4 linked regions of the Homo sapiens genome follow. The protein of the gene in region 2 interacts with the protein of the main gene of each other region in a pairwise test. Each region holds a gene or a part of one and is shown on either strand. Other genes may lie near its edges.

The links. Proteins that work in one complex are often made in the same cells at the same time.
Region 1: the proteins of ITSN1 (region 2) and EPS15 interact in binary tests that used the Homo sapiens proteins (3 or more experiments, as listed by UniProt).
Region 3: the proteins of ITSN1 (region 2) and DISC1 interact in binary tests that used the Homo sapiens proteins (3 or more experiments, as listed by UniProt).
Region 4: the proteins of ITSN1 (region 2) and AP2B1 interact in binary tests that used the Homo sapiens proteins (3 or more experiments, as listed by UniProt).

What each region holds. Positions count from the first base shown.
Region 1 is NC_000001.11:51,400,767-51,404,266, forward strand, and holds part of EPS15 (epidermal growth factor receptor substrate 15), read right to left. Parts: intron 2,767-3,500; coding exon 2,653-2,766; intron 1,760-2,652; coding exon 1,669-1,759; intron 188-1,668; coding exon 152-187; intron 1-151. UniProt on the Homo sapiens protein: Involved in cell growth regulation. May be involved in the regulation of mitogenic signals and control of cell proliferation. Involved in the internalization of ligand-inducible receptors of the receptor tyrosine kinase (RTK) type, in particular EGFR.
Region 2 is NC_000021.9:33,775,001-33,778,500, forward strand, and holds part of ITSN1 (intersectin-1), read left to right. Parts: coding exon 1-108; intron 109-3,500. UniProt on the Homo sapiens protein: Adapter protein that provides a link between the endocytic membrane traffic and the actin assembly machinery. Acts as a guanine nucleotide exchange factor (GEF) for CDC42, and thereby stimulates actin nucleation mediated by WASL and the ARP2/3 complex.
Region 3 is NC_000001.11:232,035,790-232,038,780, forward strand, and holds part of DISC1 (disrupted in schizophrenia 1 protein), read left to right. Parts: intron 1-902; coding exon 903-1,042; 3' UTR 1,043-2,991. UniProt on the Homo sapiens protein: Involved in the regulation of multiple aspects of embryonic and adult neurogenesis. Required for neural progenitor proliferation in the ventrical/subventrical zone during embryonic brain development and in the adult dentate gyrus of the hippocampus.
Region 4 is NC_000017.11:35,607,822-35,611,321, forward strand, and holds part of AP2B1 (AP-2 complex subunit beta), read left to right. Parts: intron 1-320; coding exon 321-566; intron 567-3,500. UniProt on the Homo sapiens protein: Component of the adaptor protein complex 2 (AP-2). Adaptor protein complexes function in protein transport via transport vesicles in different membrane traffic pathways.

The DNA.
Region 1 (3,500 bases), on a different chromosome or scaffold from region 2:
AGCAAAATCAAAAGAATTTACTACTCTCTTTCTGAAAATGCCAGGCACATAGAGCATCTTACTGGGGCTTCAGTTTCAGACCTAAATAACATAAGCTTATTATTAAGCAGAAATGAATGAAAGCTAAGATGAAACTCAATAAGATACTGACCGATTTTTCCAAAAGGATCATCCTTGAAAGGATCACCTGTGATAAAATAAACACAAAGAAATCCAAATAACAATATTTACTGTGGTGACACCACTACTTAAAGAGTAACTTTCAAACAAAAGCAAAGCAAAGTTTATTTCAATAACTTCACTTCACAGTAGATAAAATAAGGAATGTCATTGACCTTATGAAATATACAGCCAACTATACTTACCTTGATCACAAGTTGAGGTTACGGATGGAGGGGAAGACATTACAGCAAAAATTTTACTAACAAAATCTCTACTCTCCACAAGAGTACTGGGAGGGTATTATCATCACCAGTTCAGAAATAAAGGTACTGAGCTTTACTGAAGCAAAAAAAAAAAAATTCTTACAGGATTGAAGAGTCCAGAAATAAATCCTTACCTTTATGGTCATTTGATTTTTGACAAGCGTATCAAGAACACAAAATGGAGAAAGGACAGTCTTTTCAACAAATGGTGTTAGGACAACTGGATATCCACTTGCAAAAGAATGAAGCTCGACCTCTATCTCACATCATATACAAAAATAAACTCAAAATGGATCAAAGATCTAACTGTAACAGCAAAACTATAAAACTCTTAGACAAAGACAGCATTAAATCTTTGCGACTTAGGTAATAGTTTCTTAGATGACACCAAAAGCACAAGTGACAGAAGAAAAAATAGATAACTGGACTTCACCAAAATTGAATAAACACTTTTCCAAAGAAGATACACAAATGGCTAATAAGCATCTAGAAAGATGTTCAACATTAGTCAGTAGGAAAATACAAAGCAGGCCAGGCGCAGTGGCTCACACCTGTAATCCCAGCACTTTAGAAGGCCGAGGCAGGCGGATCACCTTACATCAGGAGTTCAAGACCAGCCTGGTCAAAATGGTGAAACCCAGTCTCTACTAAAAATACAAAAATTAGGCCAGACGCGGTGGCTCACGCCTGTAATCCCAGCACTTTGGGAGGCCAACGTGGGCGGATCACGAGGTCAAGAGATGGAGACCATCCTGGCCAACATGGTGAAACCCCGCCTCTACTAAAAACACAAAAGTTAGCTGGGTGTGGTGGCAGGCACCTGCAATCCCAACTACTCAGGAGGCTGAGGCAGGAGATTAGCTTGAATCCGGGAGGCAGAAGTTGCAGTGAGCCGAGATTGTGCCACTGCACTCCAGCCTGGCGACAGAGCGAGACTCCATTTCTAAATAAATTAATTACATAAATAAATAAATACACACATACATACATACATACATACATAAAATTAGCTGGGTGTGGTGGTGGGCGCCTGTAGTCTCAGCTACTCAAGAGGCTGAGACAGGAGAATCGCTTGAACCCAGGAGGCGGAGGTTGCAGTGAGCCGAGATCGTGCCACTGCACTCCAGCCTGGGCGACAGACTGAGTTGGTAGGCTATTGAAACTGAAGCCTTGAATCCTTAGTTTATATATTAAAAAGTCTTTTTTTTGGGTAAATCTATAATATAAAAAAAAGAGTACTTACTGCCAACAAAAGGATCAGACTGGAAAAAATCCAAGTTTGTATCTGCAACTGGACCTGTCAGCGAACTTGAGTCTACATTAAATGGATCTTCCTAAAAATAATTTTAAATTAAAATTATTTTTTAGAAACCAAAGTTTTAAAAGGTAACATTTTAAAATAAAATAACACACATTCAGGTCATACACATGCTTTGAAAAATCAACTGATGGGCCAGGCACGGTGGCTCACACCTGTAATCCCAGCACTTTGGGAGGCTGACGTGGGCAGATCACAAGGTCAAGAGATAGAGACCATCCTGGCCAAAATGGTGAAACCCCGTCTCTACCAAAAACACAAAAATTAGCTGGGCATGTGCAGCTACTCAGGAGGCTGAGGCAGGAGAATTGCTTGAACCTGGGAGGTGGAGGTTGCAGTGAGCCAAGATCACACTACTGCACTCAAGGCTGGGTGACAGAGTGAGACTTGGTCTTGAAAACAAAAGGAAAATCAACTGATGGTAATGTAACAAATATCTCTCTAGTCATAAAGCACCTTTAACACATTTTTCTCTTTCCTTCACCTTAACATATTTTTCTCTTTCCTTCACCTAAAATAGTGTATAATTCATCTGAGGAAAACAGTGATAAGGACATTTTTTTAAAATATCATTTAATTTTTAGAGATTAGGTCCCTCTATGTTGCCTAGTGCCTCCAACTCAGGCTCAAGCAATCCACCTACTTCACCTCCTGAGTAGCTGGGACTACAGGCACTTGCCACCACATCCAGCTATTAAGAACATTTATTTATTTTATATGTATAAATTCAAGGGGCACAAGTGGAATTTTGTTACATGGCTATATTGCCTAAAGGTGAAGTCGGGGCTTTTGATGTATCTATCATCTGAATAATGTATATTGTACCCATTAAGTAATGTCTGATAATTCACCTCCTCCTGTCCTTCCACCCTTACAAGTCCCCAATGTAAATATAAAATCATTTTTTACCTCTTTTGAATGTCTATTATTGTCGAGTTCAGAACAAACTTTTTCAGTAACAGCTGTAGTCACCTCATTTTCATCAGTCACACCAGAAGGCAGTAGTTCAGGACTACTTCTTGCCTACAAAATATTAATGCAAGTAGATTAACAATATACTTTTTGACATGGCAGAGAAAACTGACTAAAGATAACCAAAAACTATTTAAAAATAAAAAAAGACAAGCAGAATGTATTCATCAAATAACTTCTCCTTCTATAATCTTTTTTAGGGAAATGGTGTCATCAAGCATCAAAGTCACTCATGTCAGAAACCTTCAGGTCATCTTTAATCCTCAGAATATGACTCCAAGTCTTGCTCAGTCTACCTCTTACCTCTTTTTCAAATCCTTGCCTTCTTCTCCATCCTCACTGTCACTATCAATCACTTATAGTACTATCATCTTTGGTTCCAATTACTATAGCAGTCTTCCTTCCAACTGCTTTCCTGCCTCCAATACATGTATTTCCAATCTCTTCTCCTTATTGTAGCCAAACTAATAGCTCTAAAATGTGGATGTGATCGTGACCCTTCTGGTTAAAAGTCCTTCAATGGCTTCCCATTGTCTTCTTCATTTAGACGAGTGGGTGAAAGACTTAAGAAGTAGTAGGGGCAGGCCGGATGCAGTGGCTCACACCTGTAATCCCAGCACTTTGGGAGGCCGAGGCAGGCAGATCACAAGGTCAGGAGATCGAGACCTTCCTGGCTAACACGGTGAAACCCCGTCTCTACTAAAAATGCAAAAAATTAGCCAGGTGTGGTGGCACACGCCTGTAGTCCCAGCTACTCGGGAGGCTGAGGCAGGAGAATAGCTTAA
Region 2 (3,500 bases):
CAAGATATCAGATGTCGATTGACCACCCAAAGGCAAGAAATTGAGAGCACAAACAAATCTAGAGAGTTGAGAATTGCCGAAATCACCCATCTACAGCAACAATTACAGGTGAGGAAATATGCCTCTTAAAAGCTATTATATTAAACTGGCATCCTTTTCTCTAATTCATTTCATTTACTTACTTATTCAGTAAACATTAAGCAACTGTCTTGTACTAGGCACTGGGAAGCAAAAATGAAGTAGACAGGGTCCTTGTGTGAAAAGTAGCCTGTCAAGGAGACAAACTCAGCAAATATTTACTGAGCACTGCTTCGGGCCAGGTGCTTTTGCAGTTTCTGAGGCTACAGCAGGGACAGACACTCTGTCTTCTGGGAGCTTACCCTCTGTTTGCAGGAGGAACAGAGACTAACAAAATAAAGTGTGTACTGTATTAGAAGATGAAAAGTGCTATGGAGAGTGAGTAGGGAAGGGAATAGAGAGTCCTAGGGATAGGAAATGTTGTGATTTTAACTAAGGTAGCCAAGACAGGTCTTTCTGGATGGTGACATTTGAGCAGAGACTTGAAATTAATGACAGGCTAAGCCATGTGGGTATCTGGCAGAGCAAGATCTAGGCAGGGAAATAGTGCCAAAGTCCTGAGGTCGTAGCAGGACTCTGAGATGCCAGTTACAGCAAGGAGACTACTGGGTAGAGCAGGTGGGAGCTGGATCACACAGAACCTGTAGTCCACCAACAGGACTTTGGCTTTACTGTGGTAATTACAATAAATAAGTACACTTAAGTATTTTAGGGGGTCATATGAGAGCTATATGTATACTAAATAGTTGGAGACATACAGAGCACTTTTAGTAGTTCTGTCTTCATTTTAAAGCCTATCCAAAGTTGTTATAATATCACCTGGTTTGGTATCAAGTGCTGAACTACAGGGGCATCAAATTCATGTAAATATTGCCTGTGGATGATCATATTTGCCTGTGATTCCTTTATGTTAGGCTTTTTCTCAGCATGATGTTTTTGAGATGTGTCCATGTTACTGAGTGAATGACTCTTTTGTTTCTTTTCATCACTGAGTAGTGTTTCCTTATGTGTCCATTCACCTACTGGTTGATATTCAGGTTCTTTCCAGTGTGGAACTTTTATGAATAAAACTGCAGTGAGCATTTATGTACAAGTCTTTATGTGGAAATGGTTTATTTCTCTTGGGTAAACTTTTAGGAATGGAACTACTGTGTCATGTAAGTGTATATTTAACCCCATAAGAAACTGTCAGGCTGGGCACAGTGGGTCACACCTGTAAACCCAATACTTTGAGAGGGCAAGGTAAGAGGATTGCTTGAGCTCAGGAGTTTGAGACCAGCCTGGGAAACATAGCAAGACCCCATCTCTAAAAAAAAAAAAAAAAAACTTAAAAATTAGCTGGCATGGGGGCGTTCACCTGTAGTACCTGCCTGAGGCAGGAAGACCACTTGAGCCCACGATATCGAGGCTGCAGTGAGCTATGATTGAGCCACTGACTGCCTGGGCCACAGAATGAGACCCTGTTCAAAAAAAAAAAAAAAAAGAGAGAGAAAAGAGAAAGGAAAGAAAGAGAACTGACAAACTGCAAAGAGTTTGTACCATTTTACATTCTGATCATTTAATTTGTATTTCCCTGAAGGCTAATGATGTTGGGAATCATCTTACATGTTTATTGGCGAGTATTTTTTACTGTGCATCTTCGTTGAAGTGTCTGAACAAATCTTTTGCCCATTTTTTATTGGGCTGTTTGTCTTACTATTTACTTGTAAAAGTTCTTTTTATATTCTTAACAAGTCCTTTGTCAGATACGTGTTTTGCAAATATTTTCTCCCAATCTGGCTTGGGTTTAATTTTTGTTAGTGGTATTTTTTAAAGGGCAGAAGTTTTAAATTTTGATGAAGTTCAGTTTACCGTTTTTTTTCTTTTGGTGTTCATGCTTTTTATGTTCTATCTGAGAAATCTTTGACTACCCCATGACTGCAAATATTTTATTTTCTTCTAGAAGTTTTTGGGGCTTAAAAAAATAATTTTTACAAGTTTTTATAAATTGAAAAAAACTTAAAATTTTAAGTTTCATAGTTGTATCTTATATGTTTAGGTCTATGAGCTATTTCAAGTTGATTTTTGCAGATAGTATAAGGTAAAGGTTGAGGTTTATATTTTTACATACTGATACACAGTTGTTATAGCACCATTTATTAAAAACACTGGCTTTTTTCCCATTGAGTTACCTTGGTAGCTTGTTGAAAATCAGTTGAACATATTTGTAATGGTCTATTCTGGACTCTATTCTGTTCTTTTGATCTGTCTGTCCTTTACCAGTACCTCACCCTGTTGATACCTAATTTTTGAAGTCAAGTGATACGAATTCTCTGTTATTGTTCTTTTTAGAATTGTTTTTGGTTATTCCAGGTCCTTAACATTTCCATGTACATTTTAGAATCAGCTTATCAGTTTTTACAAAAATGCTTGGAATTTTGTTGGAATTCCATTGAATTTATAAATCAATTTGGGAAGATTTGACATCTCAGCAATAGTAAATCTATGGCATAAATCTCTATTTTGGTAGTTATAAATTTCTCTCAGCAATGTTTTGTAGTTTGCAGTGTCCAAGTCTTGTAGATACTTTGTAAAGTTTATCCCTAAGTATTTTGTGGCTTTTGATGCTATTGTATATTGCATATTTTTATTTTAGTTTCCAGTTGTTTGGTGCCAGTATATGGAAATAGAATTTATTTTTGTATATTGACCTTATATCTGTGATTGCTTAACTAACTTCCTTTGTGTGTCTTACTTTGTTGACCAGAACCTCCCATACTATATTGGATAGAAGTGGGAAGAGCCTTGTTCCCTCTCGATGAAGGAAAGCTCTCTCACCATAGAGTATAGTGTTAACCAGGGTTCTTGTAAACACCTTTTATCAGGTTGATGGACTTCTCCTTTTGCTGAGGGTTTTTATGATGAATGGGTGTTGAAATAGATCATATGTTTTTTCCCCGCATCTATTGAGATAAGTATGTGTTTTTTCTTTCTTATTTTGTTAATATGATGAAGTACATGGTTGCCATTTGAATGTTAAATCAGCCTTCCATTCTTGGGATAAACCACTCTTGGTCATGGTATATTACCCTTTATTAAAATATTTCACTACATTCCATTTCCCATTATTTTATTAAGGATCTTTTTAAATCTGTTGAATTCAATTCAACAGAGATATTGGTTTTTAGTGTTCTTCTAATATTCTTGTCTAGTTTTGATATCAGGGTAATGCTGGCCTCAGAAAATGAGTTGGAAAATATTCCTTCCTCCTCTATTTTCTAAAAGTGTTTGTGTTGAAATAGCATTTCTTCTTTAAATTTTGGTGGCATTCACCAGTGAAGGCCTCTGGGCCTGGAGCTTTCTTGAAGACTTAATTATAAAATTCATTATGCAGATATAGGGCTATTCTGATTTTCTTCTTCTCCTTGAATCTGTTTTGATTA
Region 3 (2,991 bases), on a different chromosome or scaffold from region 2:
GAAAGGATGAACTGGATGACGTATGGACAGAAAAACCACTGTTGGTTAAACATTCCCCTGCTTGAACACCCAGACGAGAACCCGTTTCTTAAGAGAACTACAGCCTTATCTATTACTGTTTGCTAAGTTCTCTATGATTGTTTTCTCCATGTGAGAAATAACTTTATAGGTTAGAAAACTAAGAGCCCAACAGCTTAAGAAAAGAAAAGAACCAACCAACCAACCCAGAAAAAGCAAGCTCTCTTTGCCCTTTGATGGACTCTATCAAGTCTTGAGTGCCCTTCCTAGTTCCTGGGAATATACTAACAGATAACAGCAGGTTAGAGCCTGGAGAGGTTTCAAAGTCATCATTTCAAGAGAAAACTGAGGCTTTAACTGGTTTGCATAGGGTGACAAGGCTGGTTAATGGTGAACAGAGACCATGTTAATAACTGAGTCTGCTCCAGTATGCCTCTCCCTACTTATGGCAACCCCAAATCCTGTATTTCTCAAGGAGATTTTGATTTCAAGCATTCTACCCTTTCCACTGTCAAGAGTATTTGCATCTGACAGTTGCCCCACCCCAACTTGGGGCTTAGCCGGAGTTATGGTCACGCCAACTGCATATCATTGAGCATCTGAGTTGACCATCTGTCTCTGCTAAGAGCTGACTCTTCCATTTCCTTTTTAAGACCTGACTTGAGAGAGTCAATACCTCAGGCATTGTAGAAATTGCGGTCATTCTAAAATATAAAAGTGTAAAGTTTATATTAATATTTAATTCATACAATTGGAAAGAACTTTAAACTGCAATTAGGTGTCAGTACCCATCTGCTTCCAGCAGGCTCACACGCTCTTCGATCCCTCGGAGGCCGCAGAGGGCCACGATCACCTTCGAATGTGCTCCTTAACAATGTGCCCACAGTCTCTCAGGAGGGAGCTCCAGATGGTGAAGGAAACTCTGCAGGCCATGATCCTGCAGCTCCAGCCAGCAAAGGAGGCGGGAGAAAGAGAAGCTGCAGCTTCCTGCATGACAGCTGGTGTCCACGAAGCACAAGCCTGAGGAGTGACGGGATGGGGGAGGGAGGTGGGCCACCATGTTTGGACCCGGGGGGCTGCTCTTCCCTCCCCCGCCATAGCTAAGATGCCTGAATCAATTACGGAGATACAGAGCCTTGAGGTCTTTCAGTGGAAAGGTGGTTCATGTTCATTCTCATCAGTGTGAAACTGAGGAGTCTGCAATTTGGAATATGGAGAGAGAGACTGATTTGCTGAATTTCCTTCTAAATGTCACTCAAAAATTTCTTTTCCATGTCATTCTTGGGAATGTCTTCCACAGGATTTGAGAATAGTTTCATCTCAGCCCCCATTAGAGAGAAGTTGGGGTGAATTCTGGAAAAATGTCTCTTTTTCCTGTGCCATTTGCCTTCTGCTGCAACGAAAATATTTCCTGATTCAAGATTCTATAAAAAGGAAACCAAGCATAAGACTCTGTCATCATACCTGTTACACGTTCCTACAGGTGCACAATCTAAGAGAGCTAATTAACCTCAGAGTCTGGAGTTAACAGCTTTTCACCTTACTTCTCCTGTGATCTAATATTATCTTAGAAAAATTAATATGCAATTTCCAAAAGATATTTTGGTAAGACAACAACCTCCCAGTGATATGCCACCTTTCAATTTTCCTTTTGTGGCAATGATTGCATCTGAAGAAAGGATCCCTGAGAGTCTCTGTTTCATCAGGACATTCTGAAATTTACCCACAGTGAGGCTGTGGATGGATCAGGGGACCTGTATAAAATGTTTGAGCCTGTTCCATTTTCCCGTGGAACCTGTTTCACTCAATGCCAGGCAGTGCAGCATTTAGGAAAGCAGTGCAGTACTCAGTAAGGCAGTGCAGTACTCAGTAACACAATACAGTACTCAGGCAGTGCAGTACTCAGTAAGACAGTGCAGTGCTCAGTAAGGCAGTGCAATACTCAGTAACAGTGTAGTACTCAGTAACAGTGAAGTACTCAGTAATACAGTACAGTATTCAGTAAGGCAGTGAAGTACTCAGTAATACAATACAGTACTCAGTTAGGCAGTGCAGTACTCAGGAATGCAGCACAGTACTCAGGCAGTGCAATACTCAGTGCGGTACTCAGTAACACAGTGCAGTACTCAGTAACAGTGCAGTACTCAGTAACAGTGCAGTACTCAGTAAGGCAGTGCAGTACTCAGTAACACAGTGCAGTACTCAGTAATACAGTACAGTACTCAGTAAGGCAGTATGGTACTCAGTAAAGCAATGCAATGCTCAGTAACACAGTGCAGTGCTCAATAAGGCAGTGCAGTGCTCAGTAAGGCAGTGAATTGCTTAGTAACACAGTGTAGTGCTCAGTAGGACAGCATAGTACTCAGTAACACAGGGCAGCTAGTACTCAGTACTATAAGTACTGAGTACTTATATAGGCAATGTAGTACTCAGTAAATCAGTGCAGTACTCAGTAATGCAAGGGCATTTCAGGCTCCTGCTGGGCTGCTTCTTTGGCCCAGCTGGGACTCCTATTGAGACAGCTGCAAAACAGGCTGATTTCAATTAGGCAGCACTTCCCAAAGTGCACTGAGGAAGGTGGCCCCAAGAGAAGCTCTCTAAACAAAGGAGTACCCTCTCTGGTCAAGTACCTTTGGTAAATACACCATACCATAATATCTGCTTGGAGAACCACAATGCACATTAGCATATTAGTCTGAGAGAGAACTTATAGTAAGGAAACTCACTTGATTTTATCTAACCTCAAACTTTCCAAGTTTAATGGATCGTGAATTTTTTTCATGTAACTCCTATTCATATCCCATAGATCTAGTATTGTACAGCACTGCATTCTCTGAGGAAGTCCCAGTCCAAACTCTGATTTACATCACTTTAGAAACCACACTCACACTTTTGCAGAGTGTTGAGCTTAATAACTACCTGCCACAGATTGGTAAATTTAATCCAGTGGTTGTTCTGTTTGTGCTTCTGTTC
Region 4 (3,500 bases), on a different chromosome or scaffold from region 2:
TTTTCCTGTTTTTAGGGTAGATCCTAATGGCTGTGGGATGGTACGAACTCCCTAAACCTCTGCCTGGCACTAGAGTGAATCCTGCTGAGCTGTTTCTCATTTTGTATTTAAAACAGTTAAATGACTTCTTCACCTAAACTCTTAAATAGGGCAGCTAAGATTTGTACTTAGGAAAGGAATAGCATGGAAGATTGGAGCTCATGTAGAATGTATCTGGAAGCTTAAATTAATGAGGTAATTCTTTTGCAGCTTACATAAACTGGACTGTTTACTTTTAGCCACCATGTATACCTACAGTTGTTGGTGATTGTTTTCTGCAGGACTGTGAAGATCCTAATCCTTTGATTCGAGCCTTGGCAGTCAGAACCATGGGGTGCATCCGGGTAGACAAAATTACAGAATATCTCTGTGAGCCGCTCCGCAAGTGCTTGAAGGATGAGGATCCCTATGTTCGGAAAACAGCAGCAGTCTGCGTGGCAAAACTCCATGATATCAATGCCCAAATGGTGGAAGATCAGGGATTTCTGGATTCTCTACGGGATCTCATAGCAGATTCAAATCCAATGGTAATAAGCTTCTGCTTTTACAAAGAGAGCAGTATTTAAAATGAGTCCCTTGTTAAAGCGTGTTTAATATGAACCTTGTCTTTGGAATACTGGGTTATGGGGTAGCTATGGGAAACATGACTTTGTGTGTCTCACAGATTGTATATTTCATATCCTAGGTGTTTTTGAGGTGAGAACCAAGTACTAAAATGCAGGGATCTTAAAGCAAATCTTTGTATTGTACTTATGCTCATATTTGCCCATATTGCCCATGATGAAAACTTTCATCATTTTCTTCAGGAGGTTTGGCCGTAAATTTATATATATTTAAGATTATTTTCTTCAGATCAATATTTGTGGTATTTTCTGGTGGTGTGGGACTAGAAACTGAATGAAAATGATCTTTATTACCTAATTATTATCATGCATTTCTCTATAGGGGAATTTCTAGGGCAAGATTATTTTTAGCCAACTTGGTTATGTTGTAAATGTTTAGCAGCCAGAACATAGCTTAACACCTTAAAGTTTTGGGACCTTTTCCTTATTGACATTTTAAACTTTGCTTATATAATGAAGAAGGTCAAGTCCCAAGTGATATGTTTGACTCCAGTAATAACTAAAGCTCATTTGAATTGGGTACTAATTGAATATATTGGATGGGTCATTAAATATTGTTGCCAGGAAGATGGAGGAAAATAGCCACTTTCTTTAAAGTGCTACCTTTTTGGTCTAATGCAATGTTTACTGAAAGGTGCATAACACTAAGAGTTAATCAGTGGATAACCTTTGAATATTCCCTTTTAAAAATTATTTATCTATCTATTTATTTATTTTTTACAGATAGGATCTTGCTCTGTGGCCAAGCTGGAGTGCAGTGGTGCAGTCATAGCTCACTGTAACTTTGAACTCCTGGGTTCAAGCACTCCTACCTCAGCCTCCTGAGCATCTAGGACTGCAGGCACATGCCACCACATCCCGCTAATTTTTTTTTTTTTTTTGAGACAGAGTCTTGCCTTGTCGCCCAGGCTGGAGTGCAGTGGCGTGATCTCAGCTCACTGCAAGCTCCGCCTTCCAGGTTCATGCCATTGTCCTGCCTCAGCCTTTTGAGTAGCTGGGACTACAGGCGCCTGCCACCACGCCTGGCTAATTTTTTGTATTTTTTAGTAGAGACGGGGCTTCACCGTGTTAGCCAGGATGGTCTTGATCTCCTGACCTCGTGATCCACCTGACATGGCCTCCCAAAGTGTTGGGATTACATGTGTGAGCCACCGCACCCAGCCTTATTTTTTATGGAGATGGGGTCTTGCTATGTTGCCCAGGTTGGTCATGAATTCCTGGCCTCAAGCAATCCTCCCACCTTGGCCTTCCTCAGTGAATTACTGTGCTTGGCCTGAATATTTTCTTAGTGAACTTTAAATGGAGAATTAGAATTTGGCTGGACATAGATGCTGTCTCTCATTTGTAAATTACCTGTTCACTTCTCTGCTTTGACATTTTGTTTGGTTCATTTTATTTTACAGGTAGCCTTGGCTTCTGTTTATTATCCTTCAAGATTAGTATTAAATCCACAGGATGAAGCAAGTCATAATTTTTTAAGGTTTTTATGGTAGTAACTACCATTAGAAATCTTTCAACCTAGGCATAAGGGTGGGCGTCGGTGTGGGTGTGGAAGTGCAGATGCTTTAACCATGACTTCTGACAGAGCATCACCACCAGTACTAGAAGATTCAACCCTGCCTTTTATTTCCCCTAAGTAACACCATATGGTACCTTTTATTTATTTTTTATTTTTTTTTGAGATGGAGTGTCACTCTGTCGCCCAGTCTGGAGTGCAGTGGCATGATCTCGGCTCACTGGAACCTCTACCTTCTGGGTTCAAGCGATTCTCCTCCTGCCTCAGCCTCCTTAGTAACTGGGATTACAGGTGCCCACTACCATGCCCGGCTAATTTTTGTATTTTTAGTAGAGACGACGTTGCACCATGTTGGCCAGGCTGGTCTCAAACTCTTGACTCAGGTGATGCACCTGCCTTGACCTCCCAAAGTGCTGGGATTACAGGCATGAGCCATCACACCCAGCCCCCTTTTTAAAAATTACATAAAGAAATTAGTTGGCTAGGCATGTTGGCTCATATGCCTATAATCCTAGCACTTTGGGAGGCTGAGGCAGAAGGATCACTTGAAGCCAAGAGTTTGAGACCAGCCTGGGCAACAAACTGAGACCCTGTCTCTACAAAAATTTTTTTAAAAAATTCGGTGGGGCCGGGTGCAGTGGCTCATGCCTGTAATCCCAGCACTTTGGGAGGCCGAGGTGGGTGGATCACGAAGTCAGGAAATCAGGACCATCCTGGCTAACGCGGTGAATCCCCGTCTCTACTAAAAATACAAAAAATTAGCCGGGCGTGGTGGCAGGCGCCTATCGTCCCAGCTACTCAGGAGGCCGAGGCAGGAGAATGGTGTGAACCCAGGAGGCGGAGCTTGCAGTGAGCCGAGGTCGTGCCACTGCATTCCAGCCTGGGTGACGGAGCGAGACTCTTGTCTCAAAAAAAAAAAAAAAAATTTTGTTGGACGTGGTGGTGCATGCCTGTAATTCCAGGTACTTGGGAGGCCGAGGTGGGAGAATCCCTTGAGCCCAGGAGTTTAAGGCTGTAGTGAGCTATGATTGCACCACTGCATTATAGCCTGAGTGACAAAGACAGACCCTTCCTCAAAAATATAGAAAAATAAATATTGTCTAAAGTTAGTAGTATCTACTTTACAGAATGTTTAGCTGGCACCAACTTGTGTTTTTGGCATTGCTTTTGATTCACTGTTATTCTGAGCAACTATCTATAATTCTCTACCTGAGGACAGATGAGATGAAAAGTGTTTGTGCTGCAACCGTCAACCAGGTGGGCAGAATATCATGTACCCCGTGGAAACTTATTAAATATTCAGTGGTGCTAAGAATATGGAA